Regions from separate parts of the Homo sapiens genome. Here region 1 is linked to region 2. The links come from fine-mapping of genetic effects on gene expression. A gene starts in region 2. The other region holds a variant in brackets. All regions are shown on one strand. Distances are between the middles of the regions. Region 1 overlaps CORO2B (coronin 2B). Region 2 holds the start of CORO2B (coronin 2B).

Evidence for each region. PIP is the estimated chance that this variant, and not a neighbour inherited with it, causes the effect.
Region 1: its variant is the best candidate, but not a certain one, in a credible set for the expression of CORO2B in fibroblasts (GTEx, PIP 0.80).

Annotation. Positions count from the first base shown.
Region 1 is chr15:68,622,159-68,625,168 of GRCh38, forward strand. All of the region lies in intron 1 of CORO2B (coronin 2B), which reads left to right. Among named protein-coding and RNA genes, the nearest start is that of CORO2B, 45 kb to the left of the region's middle. The variant C/T (reference allele first, on the strand shown) is at 1,589.
Region 2 is chr15:68,577,844-68,580,343 of GRCh38, forward strand. It overlaps CORO2B (coronin 2B), which reads left to right and starts at 1,150. Exons shown (of 12, transcript NM_006091.5): 1 at 1,150-1,434. The coding sequence starts at 1,420. RefSeq lists an enhancer at 1,338-2,205.

The DNA.
Region 1 (3,010 bases), 45 kb after region 2:
GACTTAACCCATAGCCAGGTTTGTAGTGGGTGCTCGGTACATTCACGACAATTGTGGCAATGCTGCTGGGTGAGTGACTGCATGTGAAAATGGAGTGTGTGGGGGCATGGGCATGTTTTGAGACTGCCCAGCTGGGTGGACTGTGTGACTGCAGTGTGAGGATGTGAGGGTTGGTTGTACATTCCCTTGAGCGTGAGCTGACTGGGGAAGACATGCCTGATGCTGTTGAAGGCCATGGGGATTTGGTATGGGGTGAGCTAGCCTATAATTCACTCTGAGTTGGAAAGGATTCTCCAGTGTCATTCAGTTCGACCTGAACCTGCTATATGAGTCCCATCCTTGACATCTGTGCTAAGTGACCTCCAGTTTCTTTAATTGCCTTCAGCAATGGGGAACTCACCACCTCCCAACACAGCAAATCCTATCGTTGGACCTCACCGACTACTCATTAGAAACAGAAGCAGCTCAGCCCTATGGAGCACCTTCAGAGTCACAAGATTCACCCCCACACCCCATTCATTCATTCATAGATATTTGCTGAGCACCCTTACTACCAGATACTATTCTGAATCCTGGGGATGCAGCAGAGGACCAAGGCAGACACAGGCTCTGTCCTCTCAGAGTTTACAGTTTTGTTGACCTTAACTCACAACACCCCTGTGAGGCAGGCAGAAGAGATTAGAATGATTCTCATTGAACAGACTGGGAAACAGGCTGGTGGTGGTGATGGTGATGGCTGATATTTATAGATACTTAGCACGTGTCTGGTGCTTTGTATACTTTAGGGAATCTAATCTTCATGTCAGCCCTAGGAGGTAAACCCCATTAATATCACCCCTCTTTTAAAGATGAGAAGCATAGCTGGGTGTGGTGGTGGGCACCTGTAATCTCAGCTACTCTGGAGACTGAGGCAGGAGAATCACTTGAACCTGGGAGGCAGAGGTTGCAGTGAGCCGAGATCACGCTACTGCACTCCAGCCTGGACAACAAAGTGAGACTCTGTCTCAATTAAAAGAAAATAAAATTTAAATTAAAAAAAGATGAGGAAGCAGAGAAGTGATATTGTTTGCTTAGGGTCACACAGCGAGGAACCGGCCCGGCTCTTTTAAGCCCGGGCCCATGCTGCCTCTTGAATCAAGTCATTGAGACTCGCCAGAGCAATAGAGCAGGGGCCTTGACTGAAGCTGCTGGATGCAGACCCTGGGTGCTTTGCACCACCATTGGAAGGTCATGTGGGAGCCCTGGCAGTGTCCATGCATGTGGAAGCCTGACGTGAGTGACAGCCAGTCTGGCCCACCCACAGCTGTGTTTACACCACCTCCTCACCCCCACCCCACCCCATCCCATCCCAAAGAGCCAGAAGTGAGTGAGGTCAGCCTCTCCCGCCCTGCATGTAAACAGAGGCTGGAGGACCAGGAGTCATCTCAGGGCAGTGCGGTTGACTCCTGGTGGGAGAAGCCAAGGGCAGCTTCAGGTTCCTTTGCTCCAGAAATCCTGTTGGGCGTCTCCATCCCAGCATCCAGGAGCCTGTTGCTCCCAGGAGCAGCAGCAGCGGGTGGGAGGGCAGGCAGGGCTGGGTGAGGATTAC[C/T]GCATGCTGGATCACGGCTGCTGGGTAATCCCCGTTTGTGCCACTTGCAAAGCATGAGGTTGGAGGCGGGTGTGTTTGAGCAGCCCCAGCCCCTCCATTGTCGACACCACGGATTACAGCAGCTTCTCTCTGCAGCTGAGCGTGGGTCGCACAGACTCCTTGACTGCTGTGTTGGGAAGATGCCCTTTCTAATTCCTCCTGCTCTCTGCCCAGCCCTCCTCAGCTCAACCTCCAACAAGAAGGAGGATTTTCAGCCCTAGAGACTGGGTGATGGAAAGAGACTTGAGACAGACTTAAAGGACTGGGGTGGCGGGTCCTGCTGTCTTGAGCAGGTGACCTAACCTGTAATTCTGTCTCCTCATCCCATAAATGAGGATAAAAAATAAAGCCAGCTGCCCAGCTTAAGTCAGGTAATCCATGTCAGGGTGCTCTGTAAACTAGAGGCACCACTCTACCAATGTCGGCTATTAGAATCAGCCATGGCACAAGACTTGCAGTGGTGTGAGACTGCAGTCCCAGCTGCTCGGGAGGCTGAGGCAGGAGGATCCCTTGTGCCCAGGGAGTTTGAGGCTGCAGTAAGCTATGATCACCACTGTACTCCAGCCTGGGCAGCAGTGAGACCATGTCTCTAAAACCAATGACAACAACAAAAATGATATTAGAATCAACAGTGAGCACGACTACCAACACAAATAACAATCGTGATCAGCACCACATGAGTCTGTGAAAGGTACTGTTCACAGTGTTTCCTCCAGCCTGGAACTGATATTAGGAACTACCGTCCCTTGGGCCTAAAACTAATATATGATGTATTAGTTGTGCATTCAAATCACCTTGGGGGCTTTTTAAACATCAGACCCAAGAGTTCCTGGGGTCCATGCCCAGAGATTATAATTCACTAGATCTGGGGTGGGGCTGGGCATCTCTGTTTTTTTTTTTCTTTTCTTTTCTTTTTATTTTCTTTGAGATAGAGTCTCGCTCTGTCACCCAGGCTGGAGTGCAATGGCATGATCTCGGCTCACTGCAACCTCCATCTCCTGATTCTCTTGCCTCAGCCTCCTGAGTAGCTGGGATTACGGGTGCCTACCACCACGCCCAGCAAATTTTTGTATTTTCAGTAAAGATAGGGTTTTGCCATGTTGGCCAGGCTGGTCTCGAACTCCTGACCTCATGATACACCCACCTTGGCCTCCCAAAGTGCTGAGATTACAGGCATGAGCCACTGCACCCAGCCATGTCTCTGTTTTTAACTCCAGTGCTAGTGGTCGAAGACCACTCCTGCCCAGAGTCAAGGACACTGCAGGACAAGTGACTGTATGCCCAGGGTCCCTTCCTCTGCACCACACTCGGCTGTTCCTGAGCCTCCTTGCAATGGGCGGTCCGAGCATGCCGCTGTATGCTGGAAGGACCCCGTCTTCTCAG
Region 2 (2,500 bases):
TCCTCTCTGTTCCCCCAGCACTTTCCACAGAGCAGGTGCTCATATATGACGTTGCCTTCGCTGTCCAGGTGAATTGCACCGGTAATTACCGTGGAGCAGGAAGCCAGCACTTCCGGGCTTGCCAGGCTGTCCTGCTTGGAGAACCCCTCTGCTTCCACCTCTGCTAACTCCTCCCCTCCACCCTCTCCGCGGTTCTGTATCTGCGGAAACCGGTTCTGCTCAGGTGCTTGGGAGGGAGACTCCTTTCTCAAGACTTGCGAGGTCACCTTCAGGTGACTGTCCCTCAAATCTCCGCAGCAGCTCCAGGACACACTGTGCCCCGAGTCAGGATTGGATCAACACACAGGACGCACCTGTGTTATCACTCCACCAGTAGAGCGGCACTCAGTGGTAGTGTAGACAGTCCTAGGGCAGGGCAGCTTCTATAACAAGAGGTTCCTTAGGGAGCTAGCGGCCGAGTGGAAAGAGCGGGAGGAACGGCTCGGGCAGGCAGGTCCTGTGCTGTGGTCTAAGTCACTTCCCACGTCCGTCCCACTCTGATCGTCAGTTTCCTCCTCTGCAAAACTCACTAAGGCGGCCTTCGGGCAAGTCATCGCGGCGGGAATTAGATTCGAAAGAGTGCTTACACAAATCCGTCTGGCCACCCTGTGCCCCGGGCCAGCGCGAGGTGGGGGTGCGGGCAGGGCTCCCGGGCTTGCGGCTGCCACGCCCCTCCCAGCCCGCCGCGCCACACTCACGGCCCACGGGCCGACTTTGCGAGCCTCCAGGGGGCGAACCCGACCGCCTTCTTTGCCCGCGCAGCGCCTCGGCCGTCCAGCCTGTGACTTCACCAGCGTCCCCGGGCCAGCGGGACACCCGAGAGCCCGGGGCGCCGCCCGTTCTCCCAGCCGGCAGGTGCCGGGAGCCAGCCTCGCCCAGCCGCGTGGCGTCCGCAGGCCCGAAGGGGTTAAGGCCGCGGACCCGGGCGCCCGTCCGGACTCCGGGAGCAGCGGTGCCCGGCGGCCGGCGATCGAGCGGGAGGCTCGGGGCACGGCCGCTGGCGGGCTGCGCTTCCTCCTCCTCCTCCCTCCGCCTCCTCCTTTGTAGCGAGTTCCCGGCCCCTCTTCCTCCCCCCGCCCCCCAGCCCGGGCCCTCTCCCTCTCTCCCTTTCTTCCTGCCTCGCCTTCCTGCGGCGAAGGAGGCTCATCTATTATAAATGCACATTCGGGGCTGACATCAGCGACGAGCGGCGGGCGAGCGCCGACGAGCGGTCCCTGCGCGCTGCCCGCCCGGAGCGCAGCCCCCAGGCTCGGCCGAGCCGCCGGCGGGGCGCGGGGAGCGAGCCGGGAGCTGCCGGACCCCCTTCCGCCGCCGCCCCGGGCCGCCGCCGCCGCCCCCGCACGCCGCGCCCGCGCCCCCGCTCCGCCGCGGAGTTTCTGCATGACTGTCACAAAGGTAAGCGCCGCTCGCCCGCCGCGCCCGGGACCCGCCGGCGCCTGCATCCCCCGGGCTAGGCTGCGGGGGGCGCGGGGGTGTGGGTGTGGGGAGGGGGCGCCGGTGCCGGGAAGGTGCGGCGCGCGCCTCTCTTGCTGCCGGATCCGCTCGAGTCACTCCGGCCCCCAAGGACTGCGGAGGCCAGGGGGAGGATGCCGCTCTGGCAGCCCCGGCGGTTTGGCCAACATCCCTCCGCGCCCGGCCCAACCCCGGGACTGCATTTTTAACCCTTGTTTGGGATGCTGCATTTTTAACCCCTGGAGAGCTGGGCTGGGCGGCTAGCGGTGTCCCTCCAGGGAGTGCGCGGCGGGAAGCGTCGCTGGCAGGGGCTGGTGCTGAGCAGTGGGTGTGGGGATGGGCCTGCCGCCCCGAGGAGGCCAGCGGAGGGGAAACCCCACCCCACCTGCCAGCCTCTGCCGCCCATGCCGGGAGCGCTGGCTCCACTCCAAAGCCACTCTGTGCAGAAGGCGCTGCCCAGTCCCGGGAGCCGCTACCAGAGACAGGGCAGGTCCAGGTGGTTGGCTTGAAGATGTGGGGAGGGAATGTGACAGGGGAAGCAAAGGTGGGCATCTTGGCAGCCCCCATATTGGAGGATGATTGTTGGGCCTTGTCATAGGGGCCCACGTTTATTGGAGAGACTTCAGGGGCTTCCTAGTTGTAGGGAGGAAAGAGTTAAGAGGAAAGATGATGGGGCAGTGGAAAGTGCCAGGGTCAAGGGACCAGGGAGACCTGAGTTCAATCCCAGCTCTATCCCAGATCCCCTGGATGACCTTGGTCGGGGAGGGGTCCACTTTGGGCCTCAGTTTCTTCTTGTGTGCTGTGAGGGTGATAATATGGGTCCTGGGTTGTGACAGGCTGTTAAAGAACCAATAACATCAAGGGTGTGAACCCACACTCTTCAGAGAGATCTGTCTGGGTACTGAGCTCACAGTCTGGCGGTGGCCTCGGGCTTGGCCGTCCATTCAAGGGCCAGACTCCACCCTTTCCAGCTGCCCAGCTGGGTCCCAGAATTGGGGAGCTGGAGGCC